Linked DNA regions of Homo sapiens: region 1 is linked to region 2. The links come from fine-mapping of genetic effects on gene expression. A gene starts in region 2. The other region holds a variant in brackets. All regions are shown on one strand. Distances are from middle to middle.

Region 1 (15,910 bases), 880 kb after region 2:
TGAGCCCAGGAGTTTGAGGCTGCAGTGATGTATGATTGTGCCACACTGCACTCCAGCCTAGGCAACAGAATGAGAAACTGTCTCAAATAAAGGAAAAAAAATGGCTGGGCACGGTGGCTTATGCCTGTAATCCCAGCACTTTGGGAGGCTGAGGCCGACAGATCACGAGGTCAGGAGATTGAGACCATCCTGGCTAACACAGTGAAACCCCACCTCTACTAAAAGTACAAAAAATTAGCTGGGCATGGTGGCAGGCACCTGTAGTCCCAGCTATTCGGGAGGCTGAGGCAGGAGAATGGCGTGAAACTGGGAGGTGGAGCTTGCAGTGAGCTGAGATCGCACCACTGCACTCCAGCCTGGGTGGCAGTGCAAGACTCTGTCTCAAAAAAGAAAAGGGGGGGAAAAACCCAACTTAATAGATTTGCAAAAAACCAAATAGAAATTCCAGAAGTGAACACTTTACCAAATATACCTAAGAGATTATGCCTAGCTGAAGAAAGAGTTCATTGCCTGGGAGACAAGGCAGAAGAAACTGTTTAGAGTGTAGCACAGAATAAAAAAGAAAATATTGAAGAGAGGTAAAGAGACATGGAAGACAGAATAAGATCTAATTTCTTTAATCAGAGCTCTGGAAAGAGAGGAGAAAGAATGGTACAGAAGTAATATTTCAAAAGATATTTCTGGCTGAAAATTTTATAGATCCAATGAGAAACCAGTTGATTGATTTAAGAAGGTTAATGAATTTCTAGCAATATAAATAGAAATCTACACCCAGACAAATCATAGGAAAACTGCATAAACCCAGATACAAGGAGAAAAGTCTTGAAAGTAGCCAGAGAGAAAAAAAGATGTTTTTCAAAGAAGCAACTATGGACTGATGGTTGACTTTTCAATAGAAAATTACATATATTCTCAAAATAACTGCCAATCTAGAATTCTGTAATTAGCAAAGAATTATCCCTCTACAATGAGGGTAAAATACTTAGTTGAACAAACTCCATCAGCTCTTTCTAAAGGAAATTATGAAGTATACATTAATACTTAAGGCAGAAAGATTCTAGATAAAAGTCTGAGGTGCAAAATGGAATAAAGAGCAAAGAGAGTGGCAAATATGTGGATGTATTAAAAGAAACGTTGACTGTATAAAGTACTAGTAAGACCTTAATTAAAATATGTGACAAGAAGCTGGGCATGGTACTTTGAGAGGCTGAGGCGGGCAGATTGCCTGAGCCCAGGAATTTGAGACCAGCCTGGGCAACATAGTGAAATCCCGTCTCTACAAATAATATAAAAATTAGCTGGGTGTGGTGGTGCATGCCCATAGCCCCAGCTACTCAGGTGGCTGAGGTGAGAGGATCGCTTGAGCCCAGGAGGTTGAGGCTGCAGTGATCCTTGGTCGTGCCACTGCACACCAGCCTGGGCAACAGACTGAGACCCTGTCTCAAAAAAAATATATGACAGGCGAAGGCCGGGTTCTAAGACCTTTGTATTGTCAGAGAGAAAGGTAGAAAGTATTAATTGACTTGACCTTGATAAATTATATGTTTTAATTTCTTTTTTTTTTTTTTTTTTTTTGAGACGGAGTCTCGCTCTGTTGCCCAGGCTGGAGTGCAGTGGCGGGATCTCGGCTCACTGCAAGCTCCGCCTCCCGGGTTCACGCCATTCTCCTGCCTCAGCCTCCCAAGTAGCTGGGACTACAGGCGCCCGCCACTACGCCCGGCTAATTTTTTGTATTTTTAGTAGAGACGGGGTTTCACCGTTTTAGCCGGGATGGTCTCGATCTCCTGACCTCGTGATCCGCCCGCCTCGGCCTCCCAAAGTGCTGGGATTACAGGCGTGAGCCACCGCGCCCGGCCTATGTTTTAATTTCTAAGTTATCTTCTAAAAATGTAGAAACCAGACTTTTAACTTCTCAACCAACAGAAGATAACAAATGATTAATAAAAATTAATCCTGAAGAAGTGAAGAAAAGAAAGAACCAGTAGGACAAGTAGCACAAAGATGGGTAGATTTAAATCTAAACATATCACCAGCTACATTAAATACAAAATGGATTAAATTATTCAGTTAAAAGCCAAAGATTGTTACACTGAATTTCCAAAAAAATTCAGTTATATGGGGTTTATAAGGAACATATCTGAAACCTAAGAATAAAGAAGATCAAAAGTAATCATCACAATAAGACATACCATGCATATTCTAGCAGACAGTATGGTACAGTTAATATCAAAGGTGGACAGTAAGGCAGAAAGCATTATTGGCAGAAGAGTCACCTCAAATGATAAAATGACCAATTCACTGTGAAGATTTAATAGCCTTAGTAATATAGTATAACCTGAAATATAGCTTTAGAATATTTATAGCAAAAGTTAAACAAAACTACAAGAAATAGACAGATTTCTCAGTCTTAATGGGGTATTTTTAAACAGCTCTTTAAGTAACTGGTATAAGAAGCAGACAGGTTAGTTAGGATATAAAATATTTGTATAACACAATGAACAAGTTTAACCCAGTGGGTGTATAGAACCCATTCTACCCAACAGTGGCAGGCTACACATTCTTTTCAAGCATGTAGGATTTTGGGGGGAAAATTGACTGAGTAATAATGTTGTAAAACAAGTTTCAACAAATTTCAAAGGATTGAAACCAAAAAAGCATTTTTTTCTGTCCATTTTCATTAAAGATCTCTATCAATAGGGTAATTTTTAAAGCTTCATGTTAGAAATTGAGCAACTATTAATACTTGGAAATAATCTGGTCAGGCGCAGTGGCTCACACCTGTAATCCCAGCACTTTGGGAGGCCGAGGCAGGCGGATCACGAGGGCTGGAGTTCGAGACCAGCCTGGCCAACATGGTGAAACCCCGTCTCTACTAAAAATATAAAAATTAGCTGGGCGTGGTGGTGCATGCCTGTAGTCCCAGCTACTTGGGAGGCTGAGACAGAAGAATTGCTTGAACCCAGGAGGCAGAGGTTGCAGTGAGCCGAGATCGTGCCATTGCACTCCAGTCTGAGAGAGCGAGACTCCCTCTAAAAAAAATAATAATCCATGCATCAAAGAAGAAATCACAATGGAAGTTAGAAAATACCTTGAACTAGATGATTAAAAATTTTTGATTGATCAAATTCCACAACTTGATATATCTTAGACCATTGAAAGTGAGAGAATCAAATGTTATGTCTTTAGATACGAAGTTTCTTGACACCCCTCCCTGCCTCCCCCAAAAAAGAAATACCTACCACCTATGAAAGATTCTTGATTGGAAAAAAAAAAAATAACTGAGCTGGAGTTTCATTAAACTTCTAGATCTACTGGGAAATTCACAGTCATTTGATCTTTCAATGAGTCATAATTGTTTTGCTGTGGATGGTCTTGCCTCGATGTTGATGGCTGCTGGTTCATCCCTGGTGGTTACTGAAGGATAGGATGGCTATGCCAGTTTCTTAAGACAACAGTGAGGTTTGCGACATCAGTTGACTTCTTTTCACAAAAGATTTCTCTGTACCAGGCGATGCTTTCTGGTAGCATTTGAACCACAGTAGAACTGCTTTTAAAATTAGAGTCAGTCCTCTCAGATCTGCCAGTGCTTCATCAACTAATTCTATGTAATATTCTAAATCCTTTGCTGTCATTTTAACAGTGTTTGCTCACAGCATCTTCAGCAAGAGTAGAGTTCATGTCAAGAAACCACTTTTTTTACTCATCCATAAGAAGTAACTTCCCATTTGTTCAAATTTCATCATGATATTGTAGCAATTCAGTCACATCTTTAGGTTCCACTCCTAAATGTAGTTCTTCTGCTGCTTCTACTACACCTACAGTTCCTTCCTCCATTGAAGTTTTGAACTCAAAGTCATCCATGAGGGTTAGAATCAACTTCTTCCAAACTCCTGTTAATGTTGCCAGTTTTACCTCCTCCCATGAATTACAAATGTTCTTTATGGCATCGAGAAAGGTGAATTCTTTGCAGAAGGCTTTCAATTAATGTTGCCCAGATCCATCAGAGTAATAACGATATCTATGGCGGCTATAGCCCAATGAAAGGTACTTCTTAAATAAGGAATGTTGAAAGTCACAATTACTTCTTGATCCATGGGTTGCAAGATTTATGTGTTAGCAGGTGAGAAAACGTTCATCTTCTTGTAGCTCTCCATCAGAGCTCTTGGGTGACCAGGCACATTGTCAATGAGTAGTAATGTGTTAGAAGGAATCTTTTTTTCTGAGCGGTGGGTCTCAACAGTGGGCTTAAAATATTCAGCAAACTATGTTGTAAAAGAATATGCTGTCATCCAGGCTTCATTGTTCCATTTACAGAGCACAGACAGTAAATTTTGCAGAATTCCAAAGGCCCTAGGATTTTTGGAATGATAAATGAGCATTGGCTTCAACTTAAAGTCACCAGCTGCATTAGCCTCTAATAAGAGTCATCGTGTCCTAGGCCAGGCGTGGTGGCTCATGCCTGTAATCCCAGCACTTTGGGAGGCCGAGGTGGGCGGATCACCTGAGGCCGGGAGTTCAAGACCAGCCTGGCCAACATGGAGAAACCCTGTCTCTACTAAAAAAATACAAAATTAGCCAGGCATGGTGGCACATGCCTGTAATCCCAGGTACTCAGGAGGCTGAGGCAGGAGAATCGCTTGAACCCGGGAGGCAGAGGTTGCGGTGAGCCGAGATCATGCCATTGTACTCCAGCCTAGGCAAAAAGAGCGAAACTCCATCTCAAAAAAAAAAAAAAAAAAAAAGTCATCCTGTCCTTTGAAGCTTTGAAGCCAACCATTGACTTAGGGAAATGTTGTGGCTGGTTTGATCTTCTATCCAGATCACTAAAACTTTCTTTATATCAGCAACTAGGTTGTTTTGCTTGCTTGCTTTTCTTAAACTATTTTTCTTTTAATTCTTAGAGGGTCTCACTGTGTTGGCTAGGCTGGTCTCAAACTCCTGGCCTCAAGCAATCCTCCCACCTTGGCCTCTGAAAATGCTGGGATTATAGGCATGAGCCGTAGTGCCCGGCCTGTTTTGCTTTCTTATCATTCATGTATTCACTGGAGTAGTGCTTGTAGTTTCCTTCAAAAACTCTGCCTTTGCATTTACAATCTGGCTGTTTGGTACAAGAGGCCTGCCTTTCAACATGCCTTCTTCACTAAGCTTAATCATTTCTAGCTTTTGATTTCAAGAGAGAGACATGTGACTCTTGGTTTCACTTGAACACTTAGAAGTCATTGTAGGGTTTTTAATTGGCCTAATTTCAATATTGAAATCTCAGGGAATAGGAGGCCCAAGAAGGGGTTAGGGCAGTAGCTGGTCAGTGGAGCAGTGAGAACACACACAACATTTACTGAAGAAGTTCACTGCCTTATATGGGTGTGGTTCGTGGCACCCCAAAAGAATTACAATAGTAACATCGAAGATCATAGAACACTAAAATAGACAGCATAATAATGCAGAAGTTTGAAATACTATGAGAATTACTGAAATGTGACAGAGACATGAAGTGAGCATATGCTGTTGGAAAAATGGTGCCAACAGATTTGCTCGATGCTGGGTTGCCACCAACCTTCAGTTTGTAAAAAACAAACAAAAACCATTATCCGCTAAGAGCAGTAAAGCAAAGCACAATATGATGAAGCATGCCTGTACAGTTTATACTTCACAGTCATTGGTTAAATTTACTCATTCCTTTAAGCATAAAAAATAAATATTTAGCACCTTTGTGCTGAGTTGTATGCTAGGCACTGGGATATAGAAATGAATGATAGTTTGTCTTCAAGGAGCTTACAGTTAAGTGGTAGAAGTAGATAAATAAAGAATTAAGGACAGTGTACTGTGATGAAAGTGTGCCCCAGATGCAGAAGAATCACAGAAAAGGAGCACAATTCAATATGCTTTTAGGGGATGGAAGACAGATTTCCTAGGAAAGGAGATACTTAAACTGAATTTTAAATACTTCAGATATACAAAATCTTTATAAAGAAGAGTAATTAAACCTTATTTAGAGACAGACCACCTAAATAAATGGTACATACCCTGTACTGAGTGTGGATTGGAAGACTGAGTATGTTAAAAATGTTAGTATTTCTCAAATTGATAGTGGATTTATTGAAATCCAAATGCAAATTCCTGTAGGTTTTTCTATGGAACCTAACAACCTGATTCAACAATTTCTGTGGAAGCTTTAAAGAGGCAAGAATAGCCAAAATATACTTTAAAAACAATAAGGTAGGAAGACTTCTTTAATTCCTTTTTCCACTCGGCAAATTTTTAATGCTCTATGGTAGGCACTGCTCATCCTGGTTATTACCTTTGTGAATGTGAGATCTGGCTCCCACCCAAAGCTCACATTCAGATCCACTTGTAGTGGTATCTAGGGTTTTGAATAGAACACTTCCTGAAATACAGGTTAAGTACTGGGACTACCAACAAACA[A/G]ACTTACAACACTAATTTTATTATCTCATATTTGTATTTACAATTTTTCTTGATCATATTTTTTCATACAAACTTTAATTAGTTTCTATTAATTTCTTTTAACATAGGAAGCTTAGAAATAGACACACTTTGCTTATAATAGATCTTTAATATTATGTCAGTTGGACTATGGCTTTGTTAGAAAAGGAGAGGAGAATCTACTGCTGAGTGCTGTCCAAAGAGCAGTTACCCAACTGAGCAGAGAGGGAGGATGACCTTGAGGGTCTCACAGGCATGGGTTTTTAGGCCCAGCCTGTGGAGCGTCTGAGGGACTTATAAAAGGAAAAGGGACCCAGGTGCAGTGGCTCATGGCTGTAATCTCAGCACTTTGGGAGGCCAAGGCGGTTGGATCACTTGAGGCCAGGAGTTCGAGACCAGCCTGGCCAACATGGTGAAACCCCGTCTCTACTAAAAATACCAAAATTAGCTGGCTGTGATGGTGCACGCCTGTAATCCCAGGTACTCGGGAGGTTGAGGCCCAAGAATCACTTGAATCCGGGAGGTGAAGGTTGTGGTGAGCTGAGATTGTGCCATTGCATTCTAGCCTGGGCAACAGAGCAAGACTCAGTCTTAAAAACAAACAAACAAGCAAACAGAAAACAACAGAAAGAGGAGATGAATAACAAAATGGCAGGTAATACTAAATAATATGGATGAATTTTATATTCTTACATATGGGTAGGTGGAGGGACACCTGCTCTTGTGGCAGATTAGTTGGGAAAGGATACACTTGCTGGAACAATGCCTACCATATTAAATAAATGAAGCTAGACTTCCCCATCTGTTATGCATAAAAATCAATTTCTTGTAGGTTAAAGATTCAATACAAAAGGGGAAACCCTGAAAGCTTTTAGAAAAATAAAGGGACATTATTTAAGGCAGAGAAGAATTTCTTAAGACTCAAAAAACTAGCCATAAAAAATGGACAAATTTGACTACATTGAAAATAGAAACTTTTTTCATTAAGCCCCATTAAGACACTCAAAAGGCAAGGCAAGGAATAGAAGATACTTATAACACACACTATTAGTTATCTATTGTTGTGTAATTACCGAAGACTTAGCAGTTTGAAATAACATTTCTCTCACAGTTCTGTGGGTCAGGAAACTGAGAGTGGCTTAATTGGATGTTTCTGGCTTAGGGCCTTGAGGCTGTAATCAGTCAATGGCTGCAGTCATTTGAAGGCTTGACTGCTTTGTGCTCCCTCATGTGGATGTAGCAGGCCTCAGAGCTGGCTTTCTAGAAGGGAGTAAGAGAAAACACCCAAGATGGAAACCACAGTATTTTAGTCTTGGAAGTGGCACCCCATCACTTCTGCCATATTCTTTTTGTTAGAAGCAAGGCAATAACTCCAGCTTACATTCAAGGGGAGTTTGTACAAGGCACCACCAGGAGGGTGAGGATCATTGGGAGCCAGTTTAGAGGCTACCTACTACAACATGTAAAGAATGAACTGGTATGAAAAATATACATAAAAAATTCCTATAGATTTCTAAGACAAAGACAGAACACCAAATTGGAAAAAGGGCAAAAAATCCTGAGCAGGCATTTGAATTAAAAAAAAATTTAAATGATTAATAAACATATGAAATGACCCTTAATCTAGTTAACAATTAGGGAAATAGAAATTAAAACCACAATGAGAGACCATTTCATATAGATTGGCAGAAATGAAAAAATCTGACAATATTAAATGTTGGTGAGGCTATGAAGCAGTCTGAACTGTCTTCCACTGATGGATGGGAATGTAAATTGGGGGGAAAAATCCTTTGGAAAATAATAGGATATCCTATAACCAGCAATACCACTCACTCTTAGGCGTTTGCCCTAGACTAATGGTTCTTGAGTATGCATCAAAGTCATCTGGAGGGCTTGTTAAACCCAGCTGTTGGGGCTACCCTTAGAGTTTCTGATTAAGTAGGAATTGGGTGGAGCCTGATAGTTTGCTTTGCATTTTTAACAAGTTCCTGCCGGGAGTGGGCTGAGGGGTGGGGGGGTGGGATGTTGGTGCTGCTTGTCCAGGAATCATACTTTGAGAGTCAGCCATTGCTTTAGACATAGAGAAATGTGTGAATATATGAAGTAGGAAGCATATATATAAGATTGCTCATAACAGTATTATTCATATTAACCCCAAGATAGAAAAAAAGTTCAAGTATCCTCAGTAGTGCAGTAGATATCATTGTGTGTTTACTTATGGAACAAAAAACTAGTTCAAATAGCTAAGGAAAAAAACCACACTACAAACAGCTCCTGCCTGCATCAATATGTATGAATCTCACAAATACATTAGTCATACCTTAGAACCAAGTCACAAAAGATTAAGTGCAACATGATTCTATTCGTAAACAGTTTAAAAACAAATGCAGTTAACTGTATTGTTTAGGAATACAAATATAGGTACTAGAATTATAAGTAGAGATACTAGAATTATAAGAAAAATCAAGGGAATAATGATGATAAAAGTGAGTGATAGTGACTACCTCAGGGAGGAGAGAAAGTGGATGTGATTAAGGACAAATGGGAGACTTTTAAGATAATTGGCAATGCTATTTCTTACCTTGGGTTGTGGGGTTTGCTTTACAGTTATGCTTTAATGGAACGATGTTTTGCAAACTTCTCTACATAGCTTTATAATAAAGGGAAAATTTATCTCATTTAATTTTCATCTCTGATTACTAGTGAGGTTGAGTATGTTTTCATATGTTAGCCTTTGGGTTTTTTCTTAAATTGTTTATAGACATGCCATTTGTAGATTATGCTATTTGTTTTTAGAACTTATTTTTAGGTATTCTGTTATGGATAGTCTTCTTTATCCATCATATGTCAAATATTTCCTTCTAGTCCTTTTTTATTTGTATTTTTATTTATTTTTATTTCTTTTTTAAGAGGCAGGCCTCCCACTCTATTGAGGCCTAGGCTATGGATAGTCTTCTTTATCCATCATGTCAAATATTTCCTTCTAGTCCTTTTTTATTTGTATTTTTATTTATTTATTTTTTTAAGAGGCAAGCCTCCCACTCTTTTGAGACCCAGGCTGGAGTGCAGTAGTGTGATCATAGCTCACTGCAGCCTCCTGGGCTCAAGCAGTCTTCTAGCCTCAGCCTAAGTAACTGGGACAAATGCACACCACTGTGCCCAACTAATTTGAAAAAGAAAAAATTTGTAGAGATGGAGTCTTGCTGTGTTGCCCAGGCTGGTCTCGACTCCTGGCTTCAAGTGATTCTCCCACCTTGGCCTCCCAAAGTGCTGGGATTACAGACGTGAGACACTGTTCCTGCCCTAGCCTTTCCTTATAAAGACATATGTTGTTGTTACTGTTTATGTGGTCAGATTTAGCAGTCTTTTCATTTATTTATTTATTTTGATTTTGATTTTGATTTTTTTAAGAAATCTTTCCTGGCTGGGCGCGGTGGCTCACACCTGTCATCCCAGCACTTTGGGAGGCCAAGGTGAGCAGATCATGAGGTCAAGAGATTGAGACCATCCTGGCATGGATGAAACATGGTGAAACCCCATCTCTACTAAAAATACAAAAATTAGCTGGACGTGGTGGTGTGTGCCTGTAGTCCCAGATACTCGATAGCCTGAGGCAGGAGAATTGCTTGAACCCGGGAGGCAGAGGTTGCATGAGCTGAGATTGTGCCACTGCACTCCAGCCTGGCGACAGAGCAAGACTCTGTCTCAAAAAAAAAAAAAAAAAAAAAGAAAAAAGAAATCTTTCCTATCCAGAGTTAAAAGCATATTCTCTATATTGTCTTCTGATAAATTGAAAATTTTAAAAATTTTGTTTAGGTATTTAAGCAGTCTAGTATTTGTTATATGAAGATGTCTTGGGGGATGTTATTTTCCCAACACCATTTGTACATATGTGCACAGTCTTTTTCTCACTTATTTGTAAAGCAACCTCTCATTTCTACCAGATTCCCATGGACCGATTTCTGGGCTACTTCTTAACCTGTTTGTCTATAACCTGTTTGTCCACATTACTACTTTATATCTTTGGTTTTGGTAATGCCAGTCTCTTCTCTTTGTTTATTTGCGGCAAACATATGCTCATTCACTCTTCCACGTGACCATTAGAAGAATTAGATTGTCAATGTCCTCTAAGTCTAGGTATTTGGTTAAAAAAAAAAAAAAAGAATTAGGTTGTCAAATTCTGTAAAAAGTACTATTGGGATTTTCATTGTGATTGCATTAAGTTTATATGTTAATGTAGGGACATATATATTAGAGATTTATTATGATACTGAGTTTTCCAATTCATGAACATGGTTTTTATCTTCATTTGTTTATAGGTCTCTTCCCCCCCCACCCCTTTTTTTTTTTTTTTTTTTGAGATGGAGTCTCGCTCTGTCACCCAGGCTGGAGCACAGTGGCACAATCTTGGCTTATTGCAGTCTCTGCCTCCCATGTTCAAGCAGTTCTCCTCTCAGCCTTCCGAGTAGCTGGGACTATAGGTGCACACCACCATGCCCGGCTTATTTTTGTATTTTCAGTAGAGACGGAGTTTCACCATATTGGTCAGGCTGGTCTCGAACTCCTGACCTCAGGTGATCCACCTGCCTCGGCCTCCCAAAGTGCTGGGATTACAGACGTGAGCCACCGCGCCTGGGCCATGTGTTTCTATTTTTAGTAGAGACAGGATTTCACCATGTTGGCCAGGCTGGTCTCAAACTCTTGACCTCAGGTGATCCACCCGCCTCAGCCTCCCAACGTGTTGGGATTACAGGTGTGAGCCACTACTCCCAGCTCTGTTTTTTTTTCCTTAAAAGGTTTATAGTTTTCTACATAATGTTTTCATCCTTTTGGATGTGGAGGATTGGTATTATTTGCGAGAATCTTTTTGTGCTGTTGTGAATGAGATGTTTAGAAAAAAATATATTTTTTTACTGGATATTCATATACAGAAGAATGAAACTAGACCCCCACCTCTCACCCTATACAAAAATCAACTCAAAATGGATCAAAGACCTACCTGTAAGACCCAAAACTACAAGGTGAAACCACAGTGTGGTATCATCTGGCCCCAGGTAGGATGGCTGCTATAAAACTGTAGAAGACTTGGGAAATGCAAATCAAAACCACAGTGAGGTATTGTCTCATCCCAGTTAGGGTGGCTGTTATAAAAAAGACAAAAAATTAAAAATGCTGGTGAAGATACAGAGGAAAGAGAACTCTTGGACGCTCTTGGTGGGAATGTAAACTAGTACAGACACTGTATCAGTATGGAGGTTCCTGTGATCTAGCAATCCCACTACTGGCCGTTTACCCAAAGGAAGGGAAGTCAGTACGTCGAAGAGACATTTGCATCCCCATGTTTACTGCAGCACACTATTCACAGTAGCCAAGATATGGAATCAGTTCAACAACAGAAGATTGGGTAAAGACAATGTGGTTGTATAGCATCCGATGGAATGCTATTCAGCCGTAAAAAGGAAAAATCCTGTCATTTGCAGCAACATGATTGGAACTGGAGGACATCACGTTAAGTGAAATAAGCCAGCAAAAGAAAGTTAAACCCTGCATGTTCTCACTCTTATGTGGAAGCTAAAAAGAGTTGATTTCATAGAAGTAAAAAGTATAACAGAGGATACTCGGGCTGGGAATAGTAGGGGTAGAGTGGAAGCTCTGGGGAGATTTATTCATGGATACAAAATTACAGCTAGATAGGAGGAATAAGTTCTAGTGTTCTGTAGTAGTATAGGGTGACTATAGTTAATAATATATAGTTTCATATAGCTAGGAGGAGGATATTGAATATTCCCAACACAAAGAAATGACGAATGTTTCTCCTGTCTTTAGTGAGAATGCTTCTGTTATGCTTGGTGACTTACAGACTTTTTATAGATACCCTATATGAAGTTTAAGAATGTTTCTTCCATTTCTAGTTTGCTGACAGTTGGGCATTTTTAAAAATCCTAAATGGTTGTTGAATTTTGTTAGATTTTTTTCGTACATTTATTGAGGTGATCATGTTTTTTTCCTACATTGATCTATTTAGGTAAGTAATTGTATTGGTAGACTTCCTAGTTTTGAGTAAGCAACTCTTGTGTCACTGGATACATTTTATTGTATATTCTTTTAATTGATTGTTGAATTAGGTTTGCCTAATTCAGGTTTTTATTTAGGGATTTTACGACTGTGTTTACAAGTGAGCTCAGTCTATACCTCTCTGAGCTGTTCCATGGTTTTGGTATCAAGAGCTGATTCGTTTTCTAGAGTTTTCTGTGATTTTGGCCAGTTTTTATATCAGACCAAAGAAAATGTTTCTCGAAAGTAAGTTCATTAGGCTTTAAGTAACCACTGGGCCCATTCTTTGACTTTCAACTTTTCTGAGTGAGTTTTAGATGTGGATGTTATATACAGCATTTGTTCAGGGCTTTGGTTTGTGAGCTGAGTTTCTTTTTTTATTTTTTTAATAGATGAGCTTATCTCATTTATATTTTGTTGATAAGGCAGTTCTTCCACATTATTAATTATATTTTTCTTTGGGGGCTTTGTCTCTTATGGGTATGTGTGTGTTTCCCATCTAATAGTTTTTGATGATTTTTTATAAATCTTATTCTCTTACTACCTTCATAGATTTAATATCTGTAAGCCTCCATTTCTTGATTTGTGAAAATAATCAGGACTATTTTAACTCCTTGCTAATAAAGGTAAGAAAATCAGTACACTTATACCTCCCTTTCCCCAGCTACCATTAAAAAAATTTTTTTCCATCTCTTCATATGAGATATAAACCTTGTCATTGAAAAAAATGCATTTATTTTTTACTTTATCCTTAAGTCTCAGAGTTACATGTTTGAATGGGATTAATATTCACCTTTAATTCTTTAAAACCATGACTTCTTGATTTCTAATTCTGTTTTATTTATCTTTTCATCAGCTTGATTTTCCTATCAAGTAGTTCTGTTTTTTCTGCCAAGAATGGCTTCCTTTTTTCTTCTTCAGCCATTTCTTTCTGTTTCCACCGTGGCCTTCATTTCTGAAGTGGTCTTTTTATTACCTTCCATTTCTTTCTTGAACCCTGCTAACTCACTTTTCATTTCCTATTTCTTTTTTTTGAGACAGGGTCTGGGTCTCTCACTCAGGCTGGAGTGCAGTGTTGTGATCTTGGCTCACTGCAACCTCTGCCTCCTGGGCTCAAGCCATCCTCCCATCTCGGCCTCTCAATTAGCTGGGACTACAGACATGTGCTACCACACCTGGCTAATTTTTTGCATTTTTTTGTAGAGGCAGGGTTTCATCATGTTGACCAGGCTGGTCTCAAATTCGCCTTGGCCTCCCAAAGTGCTGGGATTACAGGAGTGAGCCACTGCCTCCTGCCTCATCTCCCATTTCATCTGTTCTTCAATTTTGTTTTTTCAGTCATTTTTTTCCCCTAAAATGCATTTGATAGTGATAGATGGGGATATATCAGAGACTTCTTTTGTTTCCTTGACTAACTTCTGGTGTTTATCTGTCTTTGCCTATTATGTTTCTTCTCTCATCCCCCACTCCCTGTTTTATTGGTGGTGTGGCGGGTGGGGTTGTTAACGTTTCTCCTCATAGACCCTTTGCTGGATTGTTTCTTTTTATTACTCATCCTTGTTGTCTTTGAGTAGAGTACTTCTATTTGAGCCTGCTCTTTGCTTAAGAATGTTATGGGGGGCTGGGCACAGTGGCTCACACCTGTAATCACAGCACTTTGGGAGGCCGAGGTGGGCAGATCACGAGGTCAAGAGATCGAGACCATCCTGGCTAACATGGTGAAACCCCGTCTCCACTGAAAATACAAAAAATTAGCCAGGCATGGTGGCGGGCGCCTGTAGCCCTAGCTACTCAGGAGGCTGAGGCAGGAGAATGGTGTGAACCCTGGGGGCAGAGCTTGCAGTGAGCTGAGATCGCGCCACTGCACTCCAGCCTGGGTGACAGAGCAAGACTCTGTCTCAAAAAAAAAAAAAAAGAATGTTATGGGGAACAGCAGGGAGAATAAGCCTAAGCAGGCATAACTTTTTTCTCAGACATCTTGTCTCAGAAAGCTCGTTCACCAAATCTGTTGTGTTCTCTACCCTGGGAATACATCACTCCTCCATTTTTAATGTCTTTTTTCCCCTTCCTGCCATTTTGGGCCAAGCCAATCATTCAGTCAGGATGAAGACTCCATCCAGGCAGGAGATGGGTGAGGCTGATAGTGAAGTTGGACATCAAATAGATTCCTGTTCGATGATTTGATTTTTAATTTGTTCTGCTCAGCTGCCTTTAGCTTTTAACCTTTTATATCTTATGTTCAATAGTTATTCTCACAAAGGAACTGGTTCCCAACATAAATTTAAAATTAAAAGTGATCAGTTCTCTCCTCTAGCAAACTGTAACTGCTTTTATTTTATGTGACTTGATCTGATGTATTGTTTTGTTCCCTGGATCATTTAGGGGTGGGGAAGTAAAGACAGGGAGGTCTGTGTTTCACTTTAAAAACAAAATCTAAACCAGATAAAAACTCGTAAAATGTCATATTTCAGGTCCTCTGTGATCTTGCCCTTTCCTACCTCTCTACCCCTGCCCACGTCTATCAGCCATCCTTGCTGTGTACTAAATGCTCTAGCACAGTATTTCCTAAAGTTTATATTGTGGATACTGAATATTCAAAGTGTTCTCCCAAAGATAGGTTCCATAGTTTACAATTTTGGGAAACTTTAAATGTTCCTCCTTGTCTAACCTGTTGAGTTTCTAAGCTCAAATGAGGGGGGATACTGTGTTATCTAAATCTTATTTGATTTCTGTATTTTACATATTAAGGGATTCATCTAAAAAGTATCTGAATTGATTTGGCAAGCAGGTGATACCCTGTACTATATTATATAGCTCCCCTTTTGGGATTTCATAATTGGATATTAGCATAGTAATGGTTGAGAAGAACTGTAGTAAAGAAGCTTACCTTTGTTGATTTATTTTTTTTTTTTGACACAGATTCTCGCTCTCTCACCCAGGCTGGAGTGCAGTGGCACAATCTCGGCTCACTGCAACCTCCACCTCCTGGGCTCAAGCAATTCTGTTACCCTTCCAAGTAGTTGGGACTACAGGTGTGTGCCACCACACCTGGCTAATTGTTTTTAAATATTTTTAGTAGAGATGGGGTTTCACCATGTTGGCCAGGCTGGTCTTGAACTCCTGACCTCAAATGATCCACCTGCCTCGGCCTCCGAAAGTGCTGGGATTACAGCATTAGCCACTGCACCTGGCCTTACCTTTGTCTAAATTAGAATTGTATAAACTTCCTTGACTATGGAACATTGCTTGTGTGTAGTATATGCTAATATTCTTTGAAACATTTTAGGGAAATGCTGTTTAATACCAATCAAATCCTTGCATTTTTTCAGGGTTGTTTCCTGTTGTTTCTGGCCCTTTGTCCTAGAATGCTCTCTTCCTTCATTTTCTCCATACCACCCAATTTTTTTTTTCAATG
Region 2 (15,910 bases):
GCCTATATTGCCACTAGATGGCGTCAAGGCAACGCCTCTGTAGAAGCTGTTGACCTAAGTATACAAATTCCCTTAATGAGCTGAATTAGTTCAGATATTCAGAAACTGAACAGATCAAGCATGTTTTTAATAACCATGTGTAACAGGAACACAATTTATAAATGTACACAAATTCATAGTCTTGCCAGCTTCCTTCCTCACAAAATATGAGGAAGAGGAGTCTTGCTCACCAGTCATTGCGGCCTCTTTGGTGCCGCAATTTAGGCGTTCGGAGGGAGGAGGAAGCACAAACTACACCACTGAGGCTGGCTGCTGTGTGCAGCAAAGATCACAACCCCGAGGAAGAAAATGACCAGCATCGGCAACGTTATTCAGGGCAGGAAAGTGAATAGAGTAAAAGCGGGCTAGTGAGGGGACTGCAGATGAAAGAGGGGGAGTTATTTTTTTATTATTTTATTTATTTATTTATTTTGAGACGGAGTCTCGCTCTGTCGCCCAGGCTGGAGTGCAGTGGCGCGATCTCGGCTCACCTGCAAGCTCCGCCTCCCGGGTTCATGCCATTCTCCTGCCTCAGCCTCCCGAGTAGCTGGGACTACAGGTGCCCGCCACCACGCCCAGCTAAGTTTTTGTATTTTTTAGTAGAGACGGGGTTTCACGGTGTTAGCCAGGATGGTCTTGATCTCCTGACCTCGTGATCCACCCGCCTCGGCCTCCCAAAGTGCTGGGATTACAGGCTGAGCCATCGCGCCCGGCCCAGGGAGTTATTTTTGTGTGCTTTTATGAATACGAAATTTGGAGGGCTGAGAATTTTTAACTATAGCAGGCAAAATGTGGGGAACCCTCCAGGAGGTGCACATAATTTCCCTCCCTCTGAGTTTGTACTGGACATGACTTGCTCCCAAGGAACAAAGTGTGAAAATGGGGGAAAAAATAGTAACTTTACAATGTTCCTGGCAGACACCACCTTCACCGAGTGATCAAGGTTAACATCACCAGTGACCAGTGATGTTAATATCACAGAACTCCTAACGTGATGAGTAGGGCACTTTACCTCAGTCTAACAGAGAAAAATATCAGACAAACCCAAACTGAGGGACATTCTACAAAATGCCTGAATAGTAATCTTTAAAACTGGCAAGGTAATTTTAAATAGAGCTGAGAAACTGACACAGACTAGAGACACTAAATGCAACTGTACCATGGTTATGGTAAGATATAAATATTAGCAGAAACTGGGTGAGGATGATATTTGAACTCTCTATACTCATTCTGCAACTTTTCTATAAAATATTAGAAAATAAAATGAAATAAAACATTTTAAAAATTTAAATAAAACTCAGATATAATAATTACATTTTTAGCATTTAGCAATGAGAATTGTGCGTATCCAGAAGACACTGAGGTGTTCCCATAATATTGCAAAATCACGCTAAGGAAAGGGTCAAGCAGCACAGGCTACAGACGGGGCTTTCTGGGTGTCTGCCCATCCAAGGCAAAGAGTTCACATGTTCATGCTAGTACCAGCTCTCAATGGGACACAGGACTCAAGATTAGCTGTTAGATTAGCTTTCTGTTAGATAGCTTTCTGTTAGATAGCTTTCTGTTAGATAGCTTTCTGTTAGGCCTCAAGATTAGCTTTCTGTTAGATGTATTAATCAATGGGGCACTTGTGGCCATGCAGAGAAAGGCAATGTGTTTGAAGTTGGACAGATTTGGGGGTGCTCCCAACTCAACCACTTCTTGTCCTTAGACAAGCCAATTAACCCCTCTGAGCTTCAGTGTCCCCTCTATAAAATGATGATGATAATGTTACGTCACAGAGCTATCGTGATGATAAAACGAATGACCCAGCCTGTTGCTTCCCAAATAGTCTAATTACTGTTATTTTTCTTTCCTTCCCTGGTGATTTCTCTCCCTAACTACTACTTTCAATAAAGTCAGAAAGCACCTGAAGTCTGTTATTCACAGTATGCAAATCCAGGATGAACTGAGCTACTGATTCTAGACACAGGTGTCCAGTTCTGCACAATTCCAGAATGTCTGGAAAGCATGAATAAAGATGAGAGACTGATTAATCCAGACCTTTAAAACACATAGAAGTCAAAGATGTAAAGGGGTGGGTAGGAGTTAGGAGAGGTCTTTTCTGAGTAATATCAATGTTTAGCTATTTCTTCTCTTGAGGTACCTGGAGTTCAGATCATTATAACCACAGTCATTGTCCCATCTGTGAAAGCAGCAAAATTGAGACAAATAATTTTTCCATATTTAAAATAGGTCAGAAATGTTGTCAGGCCAATCAAGTATGCACCTGTGTTTAGATATCTCATTTGCAAGCTAGCTGTGCACACACTCAGTCATTTGCCCAGGGCTCCTGGCTCCTTCCTGCTGACTCAAGGCAGAGTTACAGTCACCCCATTTCCCAGACCCCATATATCCAAATAGACAACACAGAGGACAATCATACCGTGGTGAAGTGATGTTGACCTCACACCTCTGCCAGGCATGGGGAGGAGGGTGTACAGACTGCACCCCTCCTCCTGCTGTTGACCTTACCCTCATGTCTCCCCTTTCCTCTCCTCTTCTCCCACCCCCATTAACCCGTATCACTCTCTTGTTAATTTCTATGCCAGGCAAATTATTATACAAACATGGAATTTATTTTCACACTTTTTTCCTCATGGAGTAAAACTGGCCTTGGCTCTTCTCTTAGAAGGAGAAATAAATTTATACCTGTGCCTTCCCTTAGACCACAATATCCAAATCCCTAGGGAGTTTTGTCAAATTCCACTTCCCCCTTCCACTCCCACACCCAGAATGAATGAAGACACGTATATTTTAAATAGAGCTGAGAAACCCACACAGACTGTATATAAAATGTGAAAAATAAAAATTCCCAATGGACTCTGACATATTCTCACCCTCCCAGCGCTCTTTGAGAACCAGTGAACTAGAGTAGATGATCCATCTCCAGCTTTAACTTGTAAAAAAAAATTATATTATTGGAAAATTTATTTTAAATGCCTTCAGTAAGCTTCAGTTTCACCTGAAGACTGTAGCTTTTGATGCTACCTTAAAAGTTACATTCCGTTCATGCTTTAAAAGACTCCTTTCCAGTAATCTTTTCTCTTTTTTAAAAAATTGAAAATGGTTCATTAACAGAATGCAGGTAGCAATGATCAGGGAAACCTAAAGCCAGACATGTTTAGAAATGTTTAAGTGAAACTTAAGTGATATAAACAAGCTCTTAAAATCCTTGAAATTTTTAAGAATTTCATTTAGTTCTTATAGAAATTGTATCTACCTTTTCATTACATTTCTGTTGGCCTATTCCTTCCCAAGTAGCAACATTCAAAAGAAATCTAATAATTTTTTCTTCTTTAATGTTACTACTTTTTCACTTAAAAACATATCTCATATAAATCTCAAGGCCTAAAAGCCCAGAGTCTATGTGACACCATGACATTCATTTCAGCTAAGGAAACTAAGCACCCACAATAATTTCATACTTTCAGAGACTACACTGGGAGCTCTGGATCTATTCCTTCCTAGTTCTGCTATTATGAACCATTCATATGGCTTATTTGGGCCTTAATTTTCTCAACTATATAATGGAGACAATAATAGCTATCTTACCAAAGAGGTTATGACCAACTAAAATAATAACGTGGAAATGTAGCTCATACAGTATTGGGCATGTAGCAGTTAAAAGTTAAATGGCAATGACCCTGAGTTCTGGTTACCACGATGGGTGTTTCATGAGGTTGTACACTGTCCTGACACCTGCCCTCCACTTCAGAAAGTGACTTCTTAACAAAGAGTTTTTAACCTCCCTCTATGCTCTGCCTACTGCAGGAAAGGGAGGGGTATGCGGGATATTATTTTTATTAGAGAGCCTCTAAGTTATGTGTCTTGAAAAAATCAAACCAAAATCCAAATTGTTTTAAATCCTTGGTTAATAAGTACTTAGTGGTGGGTATTTAGCAGAGCATATCAGAACCAGCAAAACTCTAAACATACAGCATTCTTAAAAACTGTACCCAAGGGAGACTTTGGGCAAGTGCCTAAGCAAAGACTGAAGACTTTCTTCAAACAGCAAAAACAGTCCTAACACAAAGACAACACATCCAACCCAGAGAGGGGAAAATTGAAGACAGTGTAGGACAAACAGGAAACAAATTGGCAGAACTTTGCCAATACAATAAAAAGAATCCAGACAAAGCAAGACAATTCACTTACCTTTCTTAGCGAGGACAAACTCGATGTTGACCTCAGAACTCCCTCTCTGTCTTTTAGGTAAGTAGGGAGGGAGGGAGGGAGGGAGGGAGGTGAGTGGGTTGGTGGATGGATAGATAGATAGATAGATAGATAGATAGATAGATAGATAGATAGACCATATATACATTATATATTTAAAAATATTTTTTGATTATATAAAAATGTTCATTATAGAAAACTTGAAATACACAAAAAAATTTATTGATTCCTCCCACCTAAAATAATTACTGTTTACATTTTTATATATTTCCTTTTAGACTTTTCTTCATATGTACACATTTTTACCAAAAAAAATGGTATTATACCACATGTACAGGTTTTATTTCAATTTCACTTAGTAGGTCATATAAAAAGGTTCTTTGACTAATAAGATGGTAAATACATACTATTTCATCATAAAGATATATATTATTGTGTATATTTAAGGTATAGCATAGGTTATTTGACTAAGGTAACAGAGACCAAAACTCCAGCACCTGAAAGAATGGAGACACTGATTTCTCATCAACAGTCCTGGAGTTCAGGCTTGAGCAGTCCAGAGCTGGTGTTACAAGTCCACAGTGTGAAGAACCATGGAGCCAGCTCTAGGATGGAGAATTACTTCACTATCCCAAGCATTCACCTCATCTGCATTGTCCAAGATAGACAATCATGATGTCAGCATTCCAGCTCATGGAGGGAGTAACAAAGAAAAGATTAAAGAAGGGAAGGTAGGACTGCTCCGAAGTACCACCCAGAAATTATATACATCTTTTCTGCTCACATACATGGCAATAATGGAATTTGCTGCCAAAATTCTGAACAGCTAATGATTTGATTACTATGGAAGAGAGGAGAAAGAACAGATACTGAGGGACCAATGAGGGTTTCTGCCACTCATTTAGAGTTCTTAAGACATAGTATGCATTTAATCACTCTCAGTAATCCTTTTATCTCTCTTAGGATTTAACATGATGAATACCTCCAGGTTTCATAGCACAAAATATTGGCTTGGGTAATTTTTACTGAATATTGCAGTCAAGATTCTGGTGGCCAGAATGAGAAAAGTCATGTAATTTATAAAATTTTAAGATTTATTTGACATATGTAAATATTACATAAGCATTTTATGAACACCAAAAAAAACCTAAATAAATACAAATTATGATTCCCCAATTGACATTCCAAAACTTGTCAACATCCCATCTTCAGACTGTTGTTCTTTTGGAGCCACAGTCCAATGGTCCCAGCCACAGAAACAACATTCTGGAGAAGAACTGTGCTGTGTACAAATGTATAAGCAGATGAAATAAATTCACCACAAGTCAAGCACTCCCACCACCTGTCCAGTGCTTTTTTGGCTTTCCACTGAGTTCCATAGCCTATGGTGAAGTACAGTATTTTGTAAATTTGTACTCATATGGTGTTAATTTCATTATCTAGCACTTGCCTTTGACCTTAAGCTGGTTTCCCTGGATTTTAAGATTTTTGGAACCATTCTTGATTCAGTTTCTTAAATACTAATCACTTTCCTCTACTTACCAACTCTGGCAATATCCTCTTTTCCAGAACAAGCCTAGAAACCTTAGGGTTTCTTGCTAGGAATAGCACAGTTACTATTACCCAGCAAGTGTGAGGATACTTTTTCTGTCTTGTCCCAGAGTGTACGTCTATTTCTTTTTTTGAGACAGAGTCTTGCTCTGTCGCCCAGACTGGAGTGCAGTGGCGCGATCTCATCTCACTGCAAGCTCCGCCTCCTGGGTTGAAGCCATTCTCCTGCCTCAGCCTCCCGAGTAGCTGGGACTACAGGTGCCCGCCACCACGCCCAGCTAATTTTTTTGTATTTTTAGTAGAGACAGGGTTTCACCGTGTTAGCCAGGATGGTCTCGATCTCCTGACCTCACGATTCACCTGCCTCGGCCTCCCAAAGAGCTGGGATTACAAGCATGAGCCACCGCGCCTGGCCCAGTGTACGCCTATTTCTCTTCACCTTTCTCTTTCCTTCTTTTCTCTCTGAAACCTTCCTTTTTTCCTTTTCTCTTTGCACTGAACCCCCTTCCTCTGCTTTCGGTCAGTCCAGTGGCTCCCAGTGACCACCTATCCACTGCTGAGCCCTTACTCAGGGCTCCTCAGCTAAACCACAAATATCTAACTCATCACGTGCACCCCAATGTGTTCTCTAATTTGGAAGAATTTCCCATTATACTTCAATAGACAATGAAACAATGTGATGATTTCCATTATACATGGATTCAATGGCCATGCAAAATACATGACAAATAATGCCTCAAAAAAGTTTCTTACAGAATGTGCCTTATTTTAAAATACTTACATACCAAAAAAAAAAAATTACAGAATGAACTGAAATTCAGGCACTCAAAAGCCTATGATGTCAGATCAGCAATCACAAAACTGAATTCCCCAGATCACTGGGAAAACTGCAAACAGAAAATCTTGCCCCCAAACCATCAGGTAAATCTAGGTATTGTTTACTGAAATTCCACTATTTTTTGAAACAAAGAATCTTCTTTGCTGTTGTTTTCAGTTTAGGATGTGTGATAATAATGAGAACAGAATGTCCTGGAGAGTAAAGGGTGGCAAAAATCAGACAAATGGATTTGGTCCCCATATCCATCCCTGCATAAAAGGGGAGATACTGGACCAGGGTAGCAACTGAATATGGAATGTAGAGGATGAGGAAATAGACCATCAGCTTCATAGCACCTACATGAGCTTCCGTCTGGGGATTCCAGAAACCAGTGGCATTTTTCTGCATCTTCTGTATATGTCTCCTCAAGGAGTGTATTAGCAAGGAAGCAGAAGTCACATTAATGATGAACTGGAGAGATGAGCTCAAGACCAAAGAAACCACTAAAGACAAGATGCCCTCACTGATATTAAATGATGTGTTATTTCTCGTAGTCACAAGTTCAGGAAAAGGTGATGCCTGGCTAAGCGTGATGTACAGGCAAGTGGTGAAAGCAGAAATCAGCACACAGGCCAGCAGCAGCCTGGGGATCTTTGGGGAGATATTCCGCTTCAGCAGGAGAAACACTGAGTGTTGGAAGTTAGTAATCTTCACACAGTACAAGATATTGAGCAAGGTCACAAACCAGACACTGCTCGAGTCCAAAAACATGAAACACAACACAAAAAAAGCAGACAGGTAGACTGACCTTTCCGTATTTGAAGAGACGAAGTAGATGGTGTTCACCAGAAATAGTCCCAGCATAAGAAACCTGGTGATGCCCAGGCTGAACAGAATCCTATCAGAAGAGGAGATTCTATGGCTTTTGACCCAAGTTTTGCAATTGACCACTGTAATAAACAGATTCATAATGATTCCTACAAAATTTAAAATAACTGAGGCAATAATAGCAGAGAAATAGAATAACCGAAGCATCTTTACTCATTGAGGATTCAGCAGTTGTGGTGCTGATAGTGGAGGCAGAAGAAATACCAAAATGTATAAGCAGACACCAGTATCCAGCCAGGAAGGACATCTCCTTTTTAATTTTTCCCAGCATGGCAAATGAGCCATTCATGATCAAGGGCCACCTGATTTTACTGAGATGCAAATCTTCCAAGGATTACATTACTATTTCTTCATTAGTATCCTGTTCTCCTTAGAAATGCCTAATTACAGCAAGCCTAGGTGATGCTGGGAGTCCACTCCTCCAAGAGCAGGAGGGCGAGAGGGAAGAGTCACAGCAGGCTCCAAAAACTTAGAATCCAAACCAGAGAGCTTGAGTCCAGCAATGTTTCTGTCAATGTTTTACGGTAAAGTTTTTCTTCATAAAAATGCCAGAATATGGTGGAAATCCTAATTCCTCACTCCTACCCACCCACCTCCTAGCCACATATTCATGGATGACCAGAATCCAATTTCTCTCTCCCCTCTAATCTGTTGCTGCCACAACAAGTTTCACCAATTGGCCATGCCAATGCCACTCTTTCAACCTCAGTGATTCACCTATAGCGATTTACAGTGATCTAATAGATCAAGTTCAAAGACCCAATACCTCCTTGAGAAAACCTTTCTCAATTAATCCCATTCTTTCTGATGCCCTTTGCTTTGCCTTCTCTATCTACATACATAGATTTGTGCCATAACCATTTGCTATGTTCTGGTTTTCCTTAGAAAAAATTAAGTCAGCCCTTGTAGGTGTTTCCTTTATAAATCTGGGTTTATGTTTAGATCATATGTGGCTATTTTCTCTTAGGCATTTAACTGTCAATCCAGGTACCCTGGAATGAGATACACAGTAATGCATTAGTTGTAGTTTTGTGAGCCAAACAGCTAGGCATCTCATTGCTGGATTTCTCTGTACTTGCTCAGATGGGAAATGGCAAAATATCCCTGGCAAATGATATTATGGAGGCCCATAGGTGAATGTAAGAGTATGGCATCTCTTATCTTCTCTAGCAGCTGAATGAAACCAAGGTGCAATCCTGGATGCAGCCACAGATGTTACCAAAGTAGCATCAAGGTACAGCACAAAGTCCTACTGCCAAGTCCAAATAGAAACAGACAAGAAAAAGGAGCTAAGATTTAATAATAATCAGGTCCAGAAGAGGGGAATACATTCATGAGGCCCTTTAAGACAGATGACAGGAAGCCTAGCCTGGAGAAATTCTCTGACCTGGTGCCCAGGTGCTTACAGAAGCTTTTTATTCAAAACTAACAGGCACTGATAGAGGCATGCCCACATCAGGTAAGCAGGCAAACAGAATGAGCCAGGAAGACTATGACTAAAAGGAAAATTATAGCACAGATTTCCAATTACTTATCCATAGATGGCTGCATTAAAGTGGTGAAGTTGAAATATTACTAACATCACATTTAAATAGAATAAATGATATAGAGTAAGCCATAACAGATAAATGTGGCCAAAAGAGCAGGAATCCCAGAATTAGATAGTAACAAACTCTATCTAGAATGTACTATACCAAATTGTTGGGTTCTCTGTAGGAGGAAGTGCTATAATTAAGATGTGATAAGGTTGGCTAGCACAATCAATGAATGAGCTCATTCAGTTAGAAGTTATTTCCACAAGGGTCAGTATAGGAAAAGTGTTAGCAGAACCCTTTCTCCCTATGCATGAGAATTTGACCTATGGTTAAACTTCCTAGCTGTTTTCCTTATCATGATGATAAGGATGATAAGGATAATCTTATCCTTATATGATAAGGGTAAGAACATCAACTATGTTTCTAGAACAAAAAAAAAAAAGACTCTTGATTGGAAAATTGCATCTTGACTGGAAGGAACTATAAGTGAACTGTAATAAGTATCTTATGGAGTCTACATGCATTGGGCTTCCTTCCCATGTACCTGTACCTTGACTCAACCCTAGAAGCTTTGTCTACAAAATTACCACAAAATAAATTGGATCTTTTGGGACACGAAGCTTTTAATTTGCAGCAGCTCCCACCCTTACCCTACTGTGGGTCTCTTATTACTGTACCTGAACTGTATGGCCTGCACCAAAAACTCTGCAAAAGAGGAAGGCCTGACACTGCCCTGCTGGTAAATCGGGTCCCTCAACTATATCCATCTGAGTAGGCTGGTACCACAGTAGCCTAAGATAGTCTTATAAGTTTGATTATTTACTAGAGCCCAAGAAGACCAACCAGCAGGCACTGCAGTCATGGATCCAAACTCTGCTTCTTGACAGGTCTGTAAGAAAGGCTTTAGGGCAAATAGTCAAAGCAAATGAATGGCACTTAACTTATTTGATGATGGCTCTGAAGAATGAGGTCAGTCATGAAGAAACAGGAATTTAGAAGTTTGAAATTTTTTCAGGTGGAGCCAACATGGCCGAATAGGAACAGCTCCAGTCTACAGCTCCCAGCATGAGTGACGCAGAAGACGGGTGATTTCTGCATTTCCAACTGAGGTACCAGGTTCATCTCACTGGGGAGTGTCAGACAGTGGGTGCAGGACAGTGGGTGCAGCGCACCGAATGTGAGCCGAAGCAGGGCGAGGCATCGCCTCACCCGGGAAGTGCAAGGGGTCAGGGGATCCCCTTTCCTAGTCAAAGAAAGGGGTGACAGACGGCACCTGGAATATCAGGTCACTCCCACTCCAATACTGTGCTTTTCCAACAGTCTTAGCAAACGGCACACCAGGAGATTATATCCCGCGCCTGGCTCGGAGGGTCCTTTGCCCACAGAGCCTCACTCATTGCTAGCACAGCAGTCTGAGATCAAACTGCAAGGCAGCAGTGAGGCTGGGGGAGGGTCACCCACCATTGCCGAGGCTTGGGTAGGTAAACAAAGTGGCTGGGAAGCTAGAACTGGGTGGAGCCCACTGCAGCTCAAGGAGGCCTGCCTGCCTCTGTAGACTCCACCTCTAGGGGCAGGGCATAGCCAAACAAAAGGCAGCAGAAACCTCTGCAGACTTAAATGTCCCTGTCTGACAGCTTTGAAGAGAGTAGTGGTTCTCCCAGCATGCAGCTGGAGATCTGAGAACGGACAGACTGCCTCTTCAAGTGGGTCCCTGACCCCTGAGTAGCCTAATTAGGAGGCACCCCCCAGTAGGGGCAGACTGACACCTCACACGGCTGGGTACTCCTCTGAGACAAAACTTCCAGAGGAATGATCAGGCAGCAACATTTGCTGTTCACCAATATCCACTGTTCAGCAGCCTCTGATGCTGATATCCAGGCAAACAGGGTCTGGAGTGGACCTCCAGCAAACTCCAACAGACCTGTAGCTGAGGGTCCTGACTGTTAGAAGGAAAACTGACAAACAGAAAGGACATCCACACCAAAACCCCATCTGTACGTCACCATCATCAAAGACCAAAGGTAGATAAAACCACAAAGATGGTGAAGAAACAGAGCAGAAAAACTGGAAACTCTAAAACTCAGAGTGCCTCTCCTCCTCCAAAGGAATGCAGCACCTCACCAGCAATGGAACAAAGCTGGACGGAGAATGACTTTGACGAGTTGAGAGAAGAAGCCTTCAGATGATCAAACTACTCCGAGCTAAAGGAGGAAGTTCGAACCCATGGCAAAGAAGTTAAAAACCTTGAACAAAAATTAGACGAATGGCTAACTAGAATAACCAATGCAGAGAAGTCCTTAAAGGACCTGATGGAGCTGAAAACCAAGGCACAAGAACTACGTGACAAATGCACAAGCCTCAGTAGCCGATTCGATCAACTGGAAGAAAGGGTATCAGTGATGGAAGATCAAATGAATGAAATGAAGCGAGAAGAGAAGTTTAGAGAAAAAAGAATAAAAAGAAACAAACAAAGCCTCCAAGAAATATGGGACTATGTGAAAAGACCAAATCTATGTCTGATTGGTGTACCTGAAAGTGACAGGGAGAATGGAACCAAGTTGGAAAACACTCTGCAGGATATTCTCCAGGAGAACTTCCCCAATCTAGCAAGGCAGGCCAACATTCACATTCAGGAAATACAGAGAACGCCACAAAGATACTCCTCGAGAAGAGCAACTCCAAGACACATAATTGTCAGATTCACCAAAGTTGAAATGAAGGAAAAAATGTTAAGGGCAGCCAGAGAGAAAGGTCAGGTTACCCACAAATGGAAGCCCATCAGACTAACAGCTGATCTCTCGGCAGAAACTCTACAAGCCAGAAGAGAGTGGGGGCCAATATTCAACATTCTTAAAGAAAAGAATTTTCAACCCAGAATTTCATATCCAGCCAAACTAAGCTTCATAGGTGAAGGAGAAATAAAATCCTTTACAGACAAGCAATTGCTGAGAGATTTTGTCACCACCAGGCCTGCGCTAAAAGAGCTCCTAAAGGAAGCACTAAACATGGAAAGGAACAACCAGTACCAGCCACTGCAAAACCATGCCAAATTGTAAAGACCATGAAGGCTAGGAAGCAACTGCATCAACTAACGAGCAAAATAACCAGCTAACATCATAATGACAGGATCAAATTCACACATAACAATATTAACCTTAAATGTAAATGGGCTAAATGCTCCAATTAAAACACACAGACTGGCAAACTGGATAAAGAGTCAAGACCCATCAGTGTGCTGTATTCAGGAAACCCATCTCATGTGCAGAGACACACATAGGCTCAAAATAAAGGGATGGAGGAAGATCTGCCAAGCAAATGGAAAACAAAAAAGGCAGGGGTTGCAATCCTAGTCTCTGATAAAATGGACTTTAAACCAACAAAGATCAAAACAGACAAAGAAGGCCATTACATAATGGTAAAGGGATCAATTCAACAAGAAGAGCTAACTATCCTAAATATATATGCACCCAATACAGGAGCACCCAGATTCATAAGGCAAGTCCTCAGAGACCTACAAAGAGACTGAGACTCCCATACAATAATAATGGGAGACTTTAACACCCCACTGTCAACATTAGACAGATCAACGAGACAGAAAGTTAACAAGGATATCCAGGAATTGAACTCAGCTCTGCACCAAGCAGACCTAATAGACATCTACAGAACTCTCCACCCCAAATCAACAGAATATACACTCTTTTCAGCACCACACCACACCTATTCCAAAATTGACCATATAGTTGGAAGTAAAGCACTCCTCAGCAAATGCAGAAGAAAAGAAATTATAAGAAACTGTCTCCCAGACCACAGTGCAATCAAACTAGAACTCAGGATTAAGAAACTCACCCAAAACCACTCAACTACATGGAAACTGAACAACCTGCTCCTGAATGACTACTGGGTACATAACGAAATGATGGCAGAAATAAAGATGTTCTTTGAAACCAACGAGAACAAAGACACAACATACCAGAATCTCTGGGACACATTCAAAGCAGTGTGTAGAGGGAAATTTATAGCACTAAATGCCCACAGGAGAAAGCAGGAAAGATCTAAAATTAACACCCTAACATCACATTAAAAGAACTAGAGAAGCAAGAGCAAACACATTCAAAAGCTAGCAGAAGGCAAGAAATAACTAAGATCAGAGCAGAACTGAAGGAAATAGACACAAAAAAACCCTTCAAAAAATCAATGAATCCAGGAGCTGGTTTTTTGAAAAGATCAACAAAATTGATAGACTGCTAGCAAGACTAATAAAGAAGAAAAGAGAGAAGAATCAAATAGACACAATAAAAAATGATAAAGGGGATATCACCACCAATCCCACAGAAATACAAACTACCATCAGAGAATACTATAAACACCTCTACGCAAATAAACTAGAAAATCTAGAAGAAATGGATAAATTCCTTGACACATACACCCTCCCAAGACTAAACCAGGAAGAAGTTGAATCTCTGAATAGACCAATAACAGGCTCTGAAATTGAGGCAATAATTAATAGCTTACCAACCAAAAAAAGTCCAGGACCAGATGGATTCACAGCCGAATTCTACCAGAGGTACAAGGAGGAGCTGGTACCATTCCTTCTGAAACTATTCCAATCAATAGAAAAAGAGGGAATCCTCCCTAACTCATTTTATGAGGCCAGCATCATTCTGATACCAAAGCTGGGCAGAGACACAACCAAAAAAGAGAATTTTAGACAAATATCCTTGATGAACATTGATGCAAAAATCCTCAATTAAATACTGGCAAACTGAATCCAGCAGCACATCAAAAAGCTTATCCACCATGATCAAGCAGGCTTCATCCCTGGGATGCAAGGCTGGTTCGACATATGAAAGTCAATAAACGTAATCCAGCATATAAACAGAACCAATGACAAAAACCACATGATTATCTCAATAGATGCAGAAAAGGCCTTTGACAAAATTCAACAACGCTTCAAGCTAAAAACGCTCAATAAATTAGGTATTGATGGGACGTATCTCAAAGTAATAAGAGCTATCTATGACAAACCCACAGCTCATATCATACTGAATGGGCAAAAACTGGAAGCATTTCCCTTTGAAAAGTGGCACAAGACAGGGATGCCCTCTCTCACCACTCCTATTCAACATAGTGTTGGAAGTTCTGGCCAGGGCAATCAGGCAGGAGAAGGAAATAAAGGGTATTCAATTAGGAAAAGAGGAAGTCAAATTGTCCCTGTTTGCAGATGACATGATTGTATATCTAGAAAACCCCATCGTCTAAGCCCAAAATCTCCTTAAGCTGATAGGCAACTTCAGCCAAGTCTCAGCATACAAAATCAATGTGCAAAAATCACAAGCATTCTTATATACCAATAACAGACAGAGAGCCAAATCATGAGTGAACTCCCATTCACAATTGCTTCAAAGAGGATAAAATACCTAGGAATCCAACTTACAAAGGACATGAAGGACCTCTTCAAGGAGAACTACAAACCACTGCTCAATGAAATAACAAATGGAAGAACATTCCATGCTCATGGATAGGAAGTATCAATATGGTGAAAATGGCCATACTACCCAAGGTAATTTATAGATTCAATGCCATCCCCATCAAGCTACCAATGACTTTCTTCACAGAATTGGAAAAAACTACTTTAAAGTTCATATGGAACCAAAAAAGAGCCCGCATTGCCAAGTCAATCCTAAGCCAAAAGAACAAAGCCAGAGGCATCACGCTACCTGACTTCAAACTATACTACAAGGCTACAGTAACAAAAACAGCATGGTACTGGTACCAAAACAGAGATATAGACCAATGGAACAGAACAGAGCCCTCAGAAATAATACTGCATATCTGCAACCATCTGATCTTTGACAAACCTGACAAAAACAAGAAATGGAGAAAGGATTCCCTATTGAATAAATGGTGCTGGGAAAACTGGCTAGCCATATGTAGAAAGCTGAAACTGGATCCCTTCCTTACACCTTATACAAAAATTAATTCAAGATGGATTAAAGACTTAAATGTTAGATCTAAAACCATAAAAACCCTAGAAGAAAACCTAGGCAATACCATTCAGGACATAAGCACGGGCAAGGACTTCATGTCTAAAACACCAAAAGCAATGGCAACAAAAGCCAAAATTGACAAATGGGATCTAATTAAACTAAAGAGCTTCTGCACAGCAAAAGAAACTACCATCAGAGTGAACAGGCAACATACAGAATGGGAGAAAAGTTTTGCAATCGACTCATCTGACAAAGGGCTAATATCCAGAATCTACAATGAACTCAAACAAATTTACAAGAAAAAAACAACCACATCAACAAGTGGGCGAAGGATATGAACAGACACTTCTCAAAAGAAGACATTTATGCAGCCAAAAGACACATGAAAAAATGCTCATCATCACTGGCCATCAGAGAAATGCAAATCAAAACCACAATGAGATACCATCTCACACCATTTAGAATGGCGATCATTAAAAAGTCAGGAAACAACAGGTGCTGGAGAGGATGTGGAGAAATAGGAACACTTTTACACTGTTGGTGGGACTGTAAACCAGTTCAACCATTGTGGAAGACAGTGTGGCAATTCCTCAGGGATGTAGAACTAGAAATACCATTTGACCCAGCCATCCCATCACTGGGTACATATCCAAAGGATTATAAATCATGCTGCTATAAAGACACATGCACACATATGTTTATTGCGGCACTATTCACAATAGCAAAGACTTGGAACCAAGCCAAATGTCCAACAATGATAGGCTCAATTAAGAAAATGTGGCACATATACACCATGGAATACTATGCAGCCATAAAAAATGATGAATGCATGTCCTTTGTAGGGACATGGATGAAGCTGGAAACCATCATTCTCAGCA

Evidence for each region.
Region 1: its variant is fine-mapped to the expression of TAS2R4 in monocytes (BLUEPRINT, PIP 0.95).

Annotation. Positions count from the first base shown.
Region 1 is chr7:140,891,753-140,907,662 of GRCh38, reverse strand. All of the region lies in intron 1 of BRAF (B-Raf proto-oncogene, serine/threonine kinase), which reads left to right. Among named protein-coding and RNA genes, the nearest start is that of BRAF, 25 kb to the left of the region's middle. The variant A/G (reference allele first, on the strand shown) is at 6,424.
Region 2 is chr7:141,770,236-141,786,145 of GRCh38, reverse strand. It overlaps TAS2R4 (taste 2 receptor member 4), which reads right to left and starts at 9,472. Exons shown (of 1, transcript NM_016944.2): 1 at 4,455-9,472. The coding sequence starts at 7,657. The coding sequence ends at 6,758.